4 separate regions of the Homo sapiens genome follow, and regions 1, 2 and 4 are each reported to be linked to region 3. Evidence: microRNA targets listed by miRTarBase, many of them from high-throughput screens and not tested one by one. Region 3 holds a microRNA gene; each other region holds the end of a gene's coding sequence.
What was found. Region 3 holds the annotated microRNA hsa-miR-326 (CCUCUGGGCCCUUCCUCCAG, at 1,627-1,646, shown strand). A microRNA usually pairs through its seed, bases 2 to 8, with sites in the 3' UTR of a target mRNA and lowers its output. Matches are read on the target gene's strand: a 7mer-m8 pairs with bases 2 to 8, a 7mer-A1 pairs with bases 2 to 7 and ends in A, and an 8mer does both.

Region 1: the mRNA of TRPC4AP is a reported target of hsa-miR-326. Seed matches in the 3' UTR shown: 7mer-m8 at 2,142-2,148, 7mer-m8 at 2,072-2,078 and 7mer-A1 at 1,952-1,958.
Region 2: the mRNA of ARRDC1 is a reported target of hsa-miR-326. The part of its 3' UTR that is shown has no 7-base or 8-base seed match.
Region 4: miRTarBase lists AR as a target of hsa-miR-326. Seed matches in the 3' UTR shown: 7mer-m8 at 1,238-1,244 and 8mer at 2,060-2,067.

Annotation. Positions count from the first base shown.
Region 1 is chr20:35,000,737-35,003,955 of GRCh38, forward strand. TRPC4AP (transient receptor potential cation channel subfamily C member 4 associated protein) reads right to left here. Exons shown (of 19, transcript NM_015638.3): 18 at 2,674-2,880; 19 at 1,668-2,547. The coding sequence ends at 2,410. MYH7B (myosin heavy chain 7B) reads left to right here. Exons shown (of 45, transcript NM_020884.7): 40 at 32-157; 41 at 252-422; 42 at 509-613; 43 at 695-790; 44 at 1,212-1,349; 45 at 1,441-1,701. The coding sequence ends at 1,452. Among named protein-coding and RNA genes, the nearest start is that of MIR499B, 12 kb to the left of the region's middle.
Region 2 is chr9:137,614,869-137,618,098 of GRCh38, forward strand. ARRDC1 (arrestin domain containing 1) reads left to right here. Exons shown (of 8, transcript NM_152285.4): 7 at 1-132; 8 at 206-492. The coding sequence ends at 270. It overlaps ARRDC1-AS1 (ARRDC1 antisense RNA 1), which reads right to left. Exons shown (of 3, transcript NR_122035.1): 2 at 3,066-3,230; 3 at 464-1,331. Among named protein-coding and RNA genes, the nearest start is that of ARRDC1-AS1, 2.4 kb to the right of the region's middle.
Region 3 is chr11:75,333,524-75,336,753 of GRCh38, reverse strand. It overlaps MIR326 (microRNA 326), which reads left to right and starts at 1,568; the gene lies at 1,568-1,662. All of the region lies in intron 1 of ARRB1 (arrestin beta 1), which reads left to right. RefSeq lists enhancers at 996-1,529, 1,530-2,064, 3,133-3,230.
Region 4 is chrX:67,723,303-67,726,302 of GRCh38, forward strand. AR (androgen receptor) reads left to right here. Exons shown (of 8, transcript NM_000044.6): 8 at 384-3,000. The coding sequence ends at 539. Among named protein-coding and RNA genes, the nearest start is that of NXTAR, 60 kb to the right of the region's middle.

The DNA of each region.
Region 1 (3,219 bases), not on the chromosome of region 3:
TGGCTGGCTCTGAGACTCCTCTTCCCCTCAGAACACAGGCCTCCTAAACCAGAAGAAGAAGCTGGAGGCGGACTTGGCCCAGCTGAGCGGGGAGGTGGAGGAGGCTGCACAGGAGAGGCGGGAGGCTGAGGAGAAGGCCAAAAAGGCCATCACTGATGTGAGGCTGGGCAAGGGCTGTGGGGAGCCTGGGACAGAATTGCAGAGGGACTTCCCTGAGGCTGGGCACCTGACCAGCTCCTCCTCCCCAACAGGCGGCCATGATGGCCGAGGAGCTGAAGAAGGAGCAGGACACAAGTGCACACCTGGAACGGATGAAGAAGACGCTGGAGCAGACGGTGCGCGAGCTCCAGGCCCGCCTTGAGGAGGCAGAACAGGCCGCCCTCCGTGGCGGGAAGAAGCAGGTGCAGAAGCTGGAGGCCAAGGTGTGTGCAGCCCCTCTAGTCCTTGGCGCAGGCAGGGTGGGTGACCCAGGGGTGGGCTTGGCATCAGGCTGTCCCCCTGCCTGCAGGTACGGGAGCTGGAGGCTGAGCTTGATGCAGAGCAGAAGAAGCACGCCGAGGCCCTTAAGGGCGTGCGCAAGCATGAGCGCCGTGTCAAGGAGCTCGCATACCAGGTGGGCGACAGGGTCTCCCTGGGGAGTGGCCCTGGAGCTGGCCCAGCCCAAGCAAGCCCTGAGTCCCCCTTGCCCGCCCAGGCCGAGGAGGACAGGAAGAACCTGGCTCGCATGCAGGACCTGGTGGACAAGCTGCAGAGCAAGGTCAAGAGCTACAAGCGCCAGTTTGAGGAGGCGGTGAGTGCGCTGGGGCCTGGACACCTGGACCGGGCACCCCAGCTCTGCCCCAGGGTCTGTGGCCAGGTGAGGCATCAGCAGCAGCTCCACCCTCCAAGGTCAGTGACCCAGAGGGAAGAGAGAAGCTTCTAACATCTCTGGGGAGATCAGACCTAGCTCCTTCTCATGGAACAGACCCCATGTGCTTTCCCCTGGCCAAGGCTGGGGCTGCCTCTGAGGGGTGGGGCAGGCACAAAAAGGCACATGAAGTTGGTGCGTCCCAACTTCCTTATTCCCGCTGTGGTATTGGTGAGGATGGACAGTGGCAATAGGAACAAAGTTGAGAACCAGGAGGAGCTAGCTCCCTTCTTGGACTGGGGCAGGGACCAGAATAAGCATCTCAGTCACCCAAGCGGAACCAAGGCCCTGTGTGTGCCCCCAGGAGCAGCAGGCCAACACCAACCTGGCCAAGTATCGCAAGGCCCAGCACGAGCTGGATGATGCGGAGGAGCGGGCAGACATGGCGGAAACCCAGGCCAACAAGCTGCGGGCACGGACCCGGGACGCCCTGGGCCCCAAGGTGAGGAGTGGCAGGGGCATTGCTCTCTGTGCAGGGGGACTGTGGGGGCTGACAGGTAGTACTGCTCACTCAGCTATCCCTTTCTCCTCAGCACAAGGAGTGACGGCCTGACCCCCTGGGCTCTAAAGAGGAATGTCTGCTGTTGCACATCTGGCTGAGGCCACCTGCCCCGATCCTGCCATCTCTGCATCGCCCCCTGCTGCCTTCAGCCTTCCCTGGGCCCTGAATAAACACCACAGCCAGTTTCCTTCTCATTCTTTTCTTTGGGGTTCAGGAGGAAAAACACAGTCCTAGGGACAAAAGCCAGGTCCACAGCAGTCATTTTTAAAATAAAGTTATTTAATAGTCTCCATTTAATTGGTTTATTTGCTGTTAATAAATTGGCAACACAAGGAAGGGCCCCATGTCCAGGCTCAGGCAGGAGCGGCTGCCTCAGGCAGAGGCAGGGCAGGCACAGCTGCCCCGTGCCCCAAGGGATGGAGGGAAAGGCCCCTCACTTCTGGGAGAACCCCCTTGGATGAACACAGCGGCCAATGAGCAAACAGAACCAGAGGAGCTACAGGAAAATGAGGCAGAGGGGCAGGCTTGGGGGAAGGCAGCATTCTCTGGTACCCACCACCCCTGCCCAGGGCTCAGAAGCCTTTGCCTGGGTCCAAAGGCCAGGGACAAGGGAGGCTTGGCTCACAGATGGGGGGTGGGGGTCACCCATATCTTCCTCCCCACTCTGGGACTGACTGACAGCCAAGAAACCGGCAGGAGCTCACACAGAGCTAATGCTAAATGTCCTCTTACCTCTGGGTGGCCCTGGGCCCCAGGGTTCTGAAGGAAAGGTGGGCATGGTACCCTGTCCTCATTATGGGGACTGAGGCTCTCCATGACCTAGGGCCCTCAGACCCAGGGGGACCAAGGGCTTCTAGGACTTCCCTCCCACCAAGCCTGTACCCAAAGACCTGGGGCAGGCAGAGAGCAGCAGGGAGGAACGGGAACAGGGCAGGGCGTGTGGCATCGTACCCACGCTCACCCACACTGGCCCAGCAGCCTCCCGAGGCCTGGCCCAAGGTCACTCCTCAGTGAAGTCCCTGTCTATGTCCATGTAGGGCTCCTCAATGTAGCTAACGAGAGCAGAGGGTGACTGCCGGTCCGGGTTCAACAGGATGGACACTGTCTCCTTCCAGTATGAGAAGCTGATGCAGGAGCTCTGGGCAAAGAGGGAGGGGCTGGGGGGCGCCTGGAGGACCCAGGTCAAGCCCAGCACCGGGACACCCCTCTGAGAGGCCCTGGGTCCGCGGCCCACCCATCACCCCCTTGAGGGTGGGGCACTCACGTTCTCTAGGCAGGTGCTGTCCTTGTCCTTGTGCAGGTAGTGCTGCTGCCAGAAGCGCAGCAGGTTGTGGAAGTTGTTGAGCAGGAAGCCGGGGTACTTCTTGCTGTGCTCCATCCGCTGCAGCAGCCGCAGGTACAGGGGCAGCCGCTCTTTCCGTCGGGCCAGCATCAGGATCACCAGGCTGGTGTTGAGGCAGCTGACGTTCTCCTGCAAGGCCACAGGCCCACAGGGTCAGGGGCTGGTGGGAGCCCCAGTGGCCCCTGGTGAACCTGGGTAGCCATCAGGCAGGGAGGAGAGTGGCCCCAGGCCTCGGGCCACCCACAGAGCTCTCCCTGCACAGAGGTGAGATAGGACTGGGGGAAGGGGGCCCCCAGCAGCCCCAGTTTCCTGACTGAGCACCTTCCTCTTCCCCACGCCCACCTCCCACCCCACCTGAGGCAACAACACCTGTCCCTGTCCAGACCTGGGCTCAAGCATCACTCCTTCCGGAAGGTCCGTCCCAGGCAGGGCTGGGTGCGTGTGTTGGGGCGGTTATCCCGCTTCAGA
Region 2 (3,230 bases), not on the chromosome of region 3:
CGCTGCACCCTCCCTTGTGCATTTCAACAGGTGCCACTGTCCCCTACTTTGCAGAGGGCTCCGGGGGGCCAGTGCCCACTACCAGCACCTTGATTCTTCCTCCAGAGTACAGTTCTTGGGGCTACCCCTATGGTGAGTCGACAGCCAGGGCTTGGCAGGGAGGGGACGCCAAGAGCCCCACGCAGACCCTGCTTTCTTCCCGCAGAGGCCCCACCGTCTTATGAGCAGAGCTGCGGCGGCGTGGAACCCAGCCTGACCCCTGAGAGCTGACCCCGTGCTGCCTTCTCCAGGCAGGCCTGGCCTCTGCCCTGGGACTGGGGCGCCCAGGGCCTCGTGCCTTCTCTCTTGGCCTAGCCTGGCCCACTCAGGACCTGCCCAGCCTCTGCCAGCTCCTCTGGCATCCGCCCTCTTCTCCCTGGGGCTGGGGTGGGGGTGGCAGGGAGCTGGGACCTGGAGAGACAACTCCTGTAAATAAAACACTTTATTTGTAGAGCTGGGCCTCACCGGCCTCGCCTTGGGCACCCTCCAGCCTCTGGCAGGGCCTGACCCTGACCCCATCCTGGGCTCTGCTCATGCCAGGGCAGACCCTGCTCCTCAGGTGCCCCCTACTACCCTGGGGGCGCGCTCAGGCTACCATGCCTGGGCGGAGCCGCGGGGCTGGCTCCCTTTAACAGAGGACGGGGGCTGGCGCTGGGCCTTCCAGAGCCGCCTAAGGACACGTCCTTGGAGCCCGGCTCATGAAATGGGGCCTCACGCAACCTTGGTGTTTGGTTAAATTTGTGCCTTGGCTCCTGTTGCGTTTAGGCACCCAGGTTCCCAAGCGGTGTGGTGTGGACCTCCCCTGCTGAGAAACCCGCTGGCGCGTGGAGGGGCTTGCCCAGGTCCCTCCGACAGGAGACCCTGCTCCCTGGGCCTTGGCCCCTGCTAGCACCACTGCCAGGCCTGGCTCTGAGGGACGCTGCTTCTCCCCTGCCCACGTCTCCAAGGCCTGAAAGGCAGGGTTCTGTGGAACAGCATTTCTCAAAGGGGCATCCTGCAGACGTTCCAGCCCCAGGGGAGGCCCCGTGATGCTGGCTGGCCTGCCTGGAGGGTGCTTCCAGAAACAACGGAGATGGTGGTGAAGAAGGCTCTGGGTTCAAATTCCAGTTCTCCTTTAGGGCGAAGGGGTGACTGTGGCTAGGTTTGTCAGTTACCTTATCTATAAAATGCACAGGACCAGGCCGGGCACGGTGGCTCCCTCCTGTAATCCCAGTACTTTGGGAGGCTGAGGCAGGTGGATTGCTTGAGGTCAGGAGTTCCAGATCAGCCTGGGCAACATAGTGAAACTCCATCTGTACAAAAAAAAAAAAAAAAAAAAAATAGCTGGGCATCATGGCACATGCTTGTAATCCCAATTACTCAGGAGGCTGAGGCAGGAGAATCGCTTGAACCCAGGTGGCAGAGGTTACAGTGATCTGAGATTGTGCCACTGTACTCCGGCCTGGGTGACAGAGCAAGACTGCCTCAAAAAATAAAAAAACAAAACCCCACAAAAAACTCGTGGGACTGTAGGGTACAGCCCCCCACCCTCATAGCATGACAGTTTATTTCTTGAACAGTCCAGAGGGGGCAGATCCTGGCCTTGTGGCAGAGTTGTCATTCCTACATAGTGGTTCCCATCCCTGGCTCCCAGATGGCTGTTGACAGCTTTCACCACTGCCCAGCCTAATGGTGGGACTTTTGAGGGACAGACTGGGAAATGGATTGTCACTTTTTGTCTCTGACCTGTCCCCTTCCTGTTGGAAATGTGGTCTTTAGCCAGGCAGTCCTGTACTTGGCTAAAATTTTACTAATTGTGGGACAGGCAGCATGAATATTGGAGAACAGCAGAAAGTGTACCACAGGTGGGGTCATCTGTGAAGCGCCTCCTGGAAGCAGTGCAGTATATGGTTGAAAGGAAGGCCTCCTGGGCTGAATCCCATCACTGCCTCTCACCACTCCCTTGCTTCAGTTCAGTCACTTATAAAATGTGGGTAAGAACAGTGCCTGCCTCTCAGGACTGACCTGAAGTCTGCAGTGTTAGCATGTCACGTGCTGAGAGCAGCATCTTGACATAAGTGCTGAGGGGCACACAAGGGTAGCAGCTGATGGAAAAATGGAGTGAAAAAGCTGCCTGCAGCTGCTTCCCACACCTTCACTTAGGGTGGATGTTTGCTTGGTGAAGGATTTTTCTTCACATTCTAACTCCCTTTATTCAGTCAACAATTTTTTTGTTGTTGTTGTTGAGACAGAGTCTTGCTCTGTTGCCCAGGCTGGAGTGCAGTGGCACAATCTCAGCTCATTGCAAGCTCTGCCTCCCGGGTTCATGCCATTCTCCTGCCTCAGCCTCCCGAGTAGCTGGGACTACAGGCGCCCAGCACCACTCCCGGCTATTTTTTGTATTTTTAGTAGAGATGGGGTTTCACCATGTTAGCCAGGCTGGTCTCCATCTCCTGACCTCATGATCTGCCCACCTCGGCCTCCCAAAGTGCTGGGATTACAGGCGTGAGCCACCGCACCCGGCCCAGTCAACAAATATTTTGTCTCCTGTACACCAGGTATTGTTCTAGGCACCATGGACTTACATTCTAGTAGGGAGACAATATTCCAAATCAGGATGTGGGAGAGTCACATGACACACACTGTGATGGAGCCAAGTAAGTCAACGAAGACAGGTATGGGGGGGCAGTATCATTTTAACTAGGGAGGAGAGGGAAGGCTTCCCTTAAGAGGTGATATTTCAACTCAAGGATGGTAAAGAGGGAAGCCACAAAGACACTCGAAATAAAGGTTTCAGGGAAGGGACAGACAGCAGGGGTGGCGGAGAGGTGGGTGCGGGGCAGGAGGGCCATGAAGGCGCTCGTGTCTCCTGCGAGGGCTCAGGGTGCTCGGCCTGTCATAAATGGACTTAGGCTTTGACAGAGCAGTTTAGCTGCCCTAAAGAAACCTGGGAAGGTTCCCTTGGCACTTGGGATTGTCCGTTTCCTTTTCTGTCTATGTGCGCTGTCTATGCTGGACTTGAGATAATTCTCCGGAGTCCGACTCACCAGGAGACTCGGGTGTCACCCAGATTGACCTTCAAGGCTCATTTCTTGTCAGTCCAGTACCCGTCCCCTCGGTTCACACGACCATCCAGAAACCTCAAATTCAGTCCATGCTTCTTGTTTTGGGTCTCGGGGCTGGGATAAGGCGGGCTGACCACCGCGGGGCAT
Region 3 (3,230 bases):
AGCCACTCTCCGACTGGAAGTTTCTTGAGGGCAGTGACTATGTTTGGTAGATAAATGTGTCCTTGGCACCCAGCCCAGGGACCAGGCATGCAGTACATGAGGGTCGTCAGCCATCCCAATTTTCCTGGGACAGTCTCAGTCTCGCATCTCAGGAAACCCCTCAGCTCACTCCTGGGCAAATCAGGACTGTGGGTCACCCTACAGTATCTTCTCATAAAGATTCGTAGAGTAGGTATATCCACGAATTAAGCAAGCATTAGTGAAGGACAGGAGTAGGACTTGAACAGGCCAGGGCAAGCACTGGGTGGCTGCCTTGGGCGCTGAGAGGAGTCAGCAGAAGGGTCTGGAAGGCCTAGCATGTGGACAGTGGGAGGTAGGGGTGGGGCCATCTGCAGCTTGGCAGGGTGTGGGGAGGACATCAGGCCCTGAGTCTGTAAGGTGACTGCTTTCAAACAGGTTTCAGGCTCCCAAGGGCCATGTGCTCTTCCTCAGACACATCCAGAGAGGGCACGGTTGATTCTCACTTTTTTGATTTCTATTAAATATATTGAGCCCTCAGCTACTCTTCCGCCTTGGTAGCTGGAGGCCTCTTCTTCCTCAACCTACTGAGTCTCAGCGTGCCTGCCCACTGCCTTCTGAGCTGTCCATGCCAGACTGAGATGAGACAGGGCAGAGGCACGGGCTGCGAGATGGGAGAGCAGGGCTGCAGGCTCATTCTCAGGCCCAGCCCCAGACACTGAGTGAGCCTTGGTTTCTCACAGGGTATCTGTGAGTTGTCACGTGTGGAAAGCCCCTTGGCATCTTTAGTATGCAATAGGTGCACAGCAAGTCTCATGTTTTGTCCCCGTCTATAAAAGGGGGACAATAAAGCTTGCCCTGCTCACCTCCAGGACTGTCGTGTGGGCCAAACGGGATGTGGATGTGGGATGTGGGAACATTTGGTAAACTGTATCATACCCTACAAATGTTTGAGGATGGGGTTCTTAATAGGGCAGCCCTTGCCAGCCCAGGATTCCAGGCCCAGGATTCCAGCCCAGGCATGGAAGGCTCCTCTTGGGGTTGTGCCCCAGGATCACAAAGAAATCTGGCAGTGCTGCCCTTGTGAGCAGCAGACCTCCGCAGGCAGGTCCGAGACTCAGCTGAGCTCTGCTTCTTTTTTTTTTGAGACAGGGACAGGGCCTGGCTCTGTTGCCCAGCCTGGAGTGCAGTAGTGTGATCATAGCTCACTATAGCCTTGACTTCCTGGGCTCACACAATCTTTCCTCCTCAGCCTCCTGAGTAGCTGGGACCACAGGTGTTCGCCACCATCCCAGGCTAATTTTTAAATTTTTTGTACAGATGTGGTTTTGCTACATTGCCCAGGCTGGTCTTGAACTCCTGGGCTCGAGCAATCCTCCCGTCTCAGCCTCCCAAAGTGCTGGGATTACAGGTGTGAGCTACCACGTCCGGCCAAGATCTGCTTCTTCTGAAACCATGGCAAGAGAAAGACAGACAGACTTGGACCTACTGCAGGGAGGGTTAAGTAGCAGCGGGACTCCCATCAAGAAGAAGGAATGTCTTCCGGAGCCTCATCTGTCTGTTGGGCTGGAGGCAGGGCCTTTGTGAAGGCGGGTGGTGCTCAGATCGCCTCTGGGCCCTTCCTCCAGCCCCGAGGCGGATTCACCATGAGGCTGATGCAGCTTCAGCTTCCAGCCCTTCACGCTCCAGGGCCCTTTCCAAGGCCTAGCAATGTGTCCATGTGCTCAGGGGTTTTGTGAAATTTGCAAAAGGAAATTATTTTTGTACTCTTTTTTTTTTAAAACAAACAAACAAACAAAAAAAAAACCTTCCAAGCTCTGTAAGCTTTAGGCGCCCAAGCCCAGCTCTGCCCTGCTGTGGCAAGTTTTCGTTTGGGCTAGGATGTTGGTGCCACATCTGCTGCATGTCCTCAGGGGGCTCTCATCCCACAGCAGAGATCTGTCATAGGTTAGAGCCCTCCCTACAGAAGCAACACCTGAAAGGCATCCAGGGGAGCCAGTTCTGGGGCAGGCTGAACCTGCAGCTTCACTTGCCATGTAAATTAGAGACTGGAAAGGCTTCTCTGACTTCAATCTTCCTCTTCTGCAAAATGGAGATAAGACCTTCCTGGAAAGGTTAAAATAATGAACCATAGGTGAAACTGCCTGGTCTAGCCCCAGGCTTGTCCTGGGAGCTCAGGAAATGCTGATGAAAGCTGGATGGAGATGGCTCAGGGGAGCCCATGCCTTTCATTGGGATAGTCTGTCCTGCTGTCTGTCAAATTAACCTGCTGTGTGCCAGGCCTGGTATTAGGCTCTGGGATACAAGCTGCTGGGGTGAGGTGGTCAGACGAATCAAGAGGGTGAAAGTGGTTATAAACTGTGGAGCACGGCTTGCCTGGGAAGGGGCTGTTGTAACCGGGATGGGGCCTTTTTTTTTTTTTTTTTTTTGTTTGAGACGGAGTCTTGCCCTGTCACCCAGGCTGGAGTGCAGTGGTGCTATCTCAGCCCGGGTTCAAGCAACTCTCCTGCCTTGAGTAGCTGGGATAATAGGCACATGCCACCACGCCCAGCTAATTTTTGTATTTTTAGTATAGATGAGGTTTCACCATGTTGGTCAGGCTGGTCTTGAACTTCTGACCTTGTGGTCTGCCCACCTGGGCCTCCCAAAGTGCTGGGATTACAAGCGTGAGCCACCGCGCCCGGCCTGGGATGGGACCTTCTGTGGGAGTGGGGCAGAGTAGAAGTCTGGACAGGCCTTTCCTGCTCCTGGGACTGGGTCAGGAGTCTGGCTGGTCTGGTGCCTGAGGGGAGCTGCCAGGGCAGGCCGAGCTGACCTTTCCTGCTCAGAAAGGAAGCCAGGCTGGCAGGGTGCGGTGCATCCCTCTGCAGAGTCAGGGAAGCGGAGTTTGTTGGCAGCAATGTCTTGCCTTCTGTGCTTCCCTAAGACAGGTGGCTGTGGGGAGGGCTTCGAAGAACAAACATGATGTCCGGCTAGGTTTCAGATCCCACCCCTACTGCTTGTTATGCCTGTGACCTAGAGACGGTTACATAATCTTTCTGAACCTTGGTTTTGTCATCTTTAAAATGGGGGTAATAAAATCCTCTCCTCACCCCCATAGGGTTGTGGTAAGGCTTAAATGAGATAATGCATGGCTTAACACAGTGCCTGGTACACAGTAGGTGCTCAATACATGCTGATTGTCCCTCTCCTGCCCCATGACCCTCATCAAC
Region 4 (3,000 bases), not on the chromosome of region 3:
TTTGTCTGTCTGTGTGTGTGTGTGTGTGTGTGTGTGTGTGTGTGTGTGTGTCAGAGAGAGAGAGAGAGAGAGAGAGATGGAGTGCGGAGGCTTGGGTGAGAGCACAAGCTGGAGAAGTCTTGAGTCAGAGAGCTTACAATGGTATAAGACATCTCTTGGGAGCCCTCAGTGACTCCATGGAGACCATTTCTTTCTCTCTCTCTCGCTGTCTCTCTCTAACACACACACACACACACACGACCTCATGGGGGAGGACCAAGGAAGTACGGGGAAGGGGGAGGAAACAAAAGGCTGAAAGACCAAAAATCAGAGGTTGGGGAAGAGGCTAGCAGAGGCCACCTCCTTGTCAACCCTGTTTTTCTCCCTCTTATTGTTCCCTACAGATTGCGAGAGAGCTGCATCAGTTCACTTTTGACCTGCTAATCAAGTCACACATGGTGAGCGTGGACTTTCCGGAAATGATGGCAGAGATCATCTCTGTGCAAGTGCCCAAGATCCTTTCTGGGAAAGTCAAGCCCATCTATTTCCACACCCAGTGAAGCATTGGAAACCCTATTTCCCCACCCCAGCTCATGCCCCCTTTCAGATGTCTTCTGCCTGTTATAACTCTGCACTACTCCTCTGCAGTGCCTTGGGGAATTTCCTCTATTGATGTACAGTCTGTCATGAACATGTTCCTGAATTCTATTTGCTGGGCTTTTTTTTTCTCTTTCTCTCCTTTCTTTTTCTTCTTCCCTCCCTATCTAACCCTCCCATGGCACCTTCAGACTTTGCTTCCCATTGTGGCTCCTATCTGTGTTTTGAATGGTGTTGTATGCCTTTAAATCTGTGATGATCCTCATATGGCCCAGTGTCAAGTTGTGCTTGTTTACAGCACTACTCTGTGCCAGCCACACAAACGTTTACTTATCTTATGCCACGGGAAGTTTAGAGAGCTAAGATTATCTGGGGAAATCAAAACAAAAACAAGCAAACAAAAAAAAAAAGCAAAAACAAAACAAAAAATAAGCCAAAAAACCTTGCTAGTGTTTTTTCCTCAAAAATAAATAAATAAATAAATAAATACGTACATACATACACACATACATACAAACATATAGAAATCCCCAAAGAGGCCAATAGTGACGAGAAGGTGAAAATTGCAGGCCCATGGGGAGTTACTGATTTTTTCATCTCCTCCCTCCACGGGAGACTTTATTTTCTGCCAATGGCTATTGCCATTAGAGGGCAGAGTGACCCCAGAGCTGAGTTGGGCAGGGGGGTGGACAGAGAGGAGAGGACAAGGAGGGCAATGGAGCATCAGTACCTGCCCACAGCCTTGGTCCCTGGGGGCTAGACTGCTCAACTGTGGAGCAATTCATTATACTGAAAATGTGCTTGTTGTTGAAAATTTGTCTGCATGTTAATGCCTCACCCCCAAACCCTTTTCTCTCTCACTCTCTGCCTCCAACTTCAGATTGACTTTCAATAGTTTTTCTAAGACCTTTGAACTGAATGTTCTCTTCAGCCAAAACTTGGCGACTTCCACAGAAAAGTCTGACCACTGAGAAGAAGGAGAGCAGAGATTTAACCCTTTGTAAGGCCCCATTTGGATCCAGGTCTGCTTTCTCATGTGTGAGTCAGGGAGGAGCTGGAGCCAGAGGAGAAGAAAATGATAGCTTGGCTGTTCTCCTGCTTAGGACACTGACTGAATAGTTAAACTCTCACTGCCACTACCTTTTCCCCACCTTTAAAAGACCTGAATGAAGTTTTCTGCCAAACTCCGTGAAGCCACAAGCACCTTATGTCCTCCCTTCAGTGTTTTGTGGGCCTGAATTTCATCACACTGCATTTCAGCCATGGTCATCAAGCCTGTTTGCTTCTTTTGGGCATGTTCACAGATTCTCTGTTAAGAGCCCCCACCACCAAGAAGGTTAGCAGGCCAACAGCTCTGACATCTATCTGTAGATGCCAGTAGTCACAAAGATTTCTTACCAACTCTCAGATCGCTGGAGCCCTTAGACAAACTGGAAAGAAGGCATCAAAGGGATCAGGCAAGCTGGGCGTCTTGCCCTTGTCCCCCAGAGATGATACCCTCCCAGCAAGTGGAGAAGTTCTCACTTCCTTCTTTAGAGCAGCTAAAGGGGCTACCCAGATCAGGGTTGAAGAGAAAACTCAATTACCAGGGTGGGAAGAATGAAGGCACTAGAACCAGAAACCCTGCAAATGCTCTTCTTGTCACCCAGCATATCCACCTGCAGAAGTCATGAGAAGAGAGAAGGAACAAAGAGGAGACTCTGACTACTGAATTAAAATCTTCAGCGGCAAAGCCTAAAGCCAGATGGACACCATCTGGTGAGTTTACTCATCATCCTCCTCTGCTGCTGATTCTGGGCTCTGACATTGCCCATACTCACTCAGATTCCCCACCTTTGTTGCTGCCTCTTAGTCAGAGGGAGGCCAAACCATTGAGACTTTCTACAGAACCATGGCTTCTTTCGGAAAGGTCTGGTTGGTGTGGCTCCAATACTTTGCCACCCATGAACTCAGGGTGTGCCCTGGGACACTGGTTTTATATAGTCTTTTGGCACACCTGTGTTCTGTTGACTTCGTTCTTCAAGCCCAAGTGCAAGGGAAAATGTCCACCTACTTTCTCATCTTGGCCTCTGCCTCCTTACTTAGCTCTTAATCTCATCTGTTGAACTCAAGAAATCAAGGGCCAGTCATCAAGCTGCCCATTTTAATTGATTCACTCTGTTTGTTGAGAGGATAGTTTCTGAGTGACATGATATGATCCACAAGGGTTTCCTTCCCTGATTTCTGCATTGATATTAATAGCCAAACGAACTTCAAAACAGCTTTAAATAACAAGGGAGAGGGGAACCTAAGATGAGTAATATGCCAATCCAAGACTGCTGGAGAAAACTAAAGCTGACAGGTTCCCTTTTTGGGGTGGGATAGACATGTTCTGGTTTTCTTTATTATTACACAATCTGGCTCATGTACAGGATCACTTTTAGC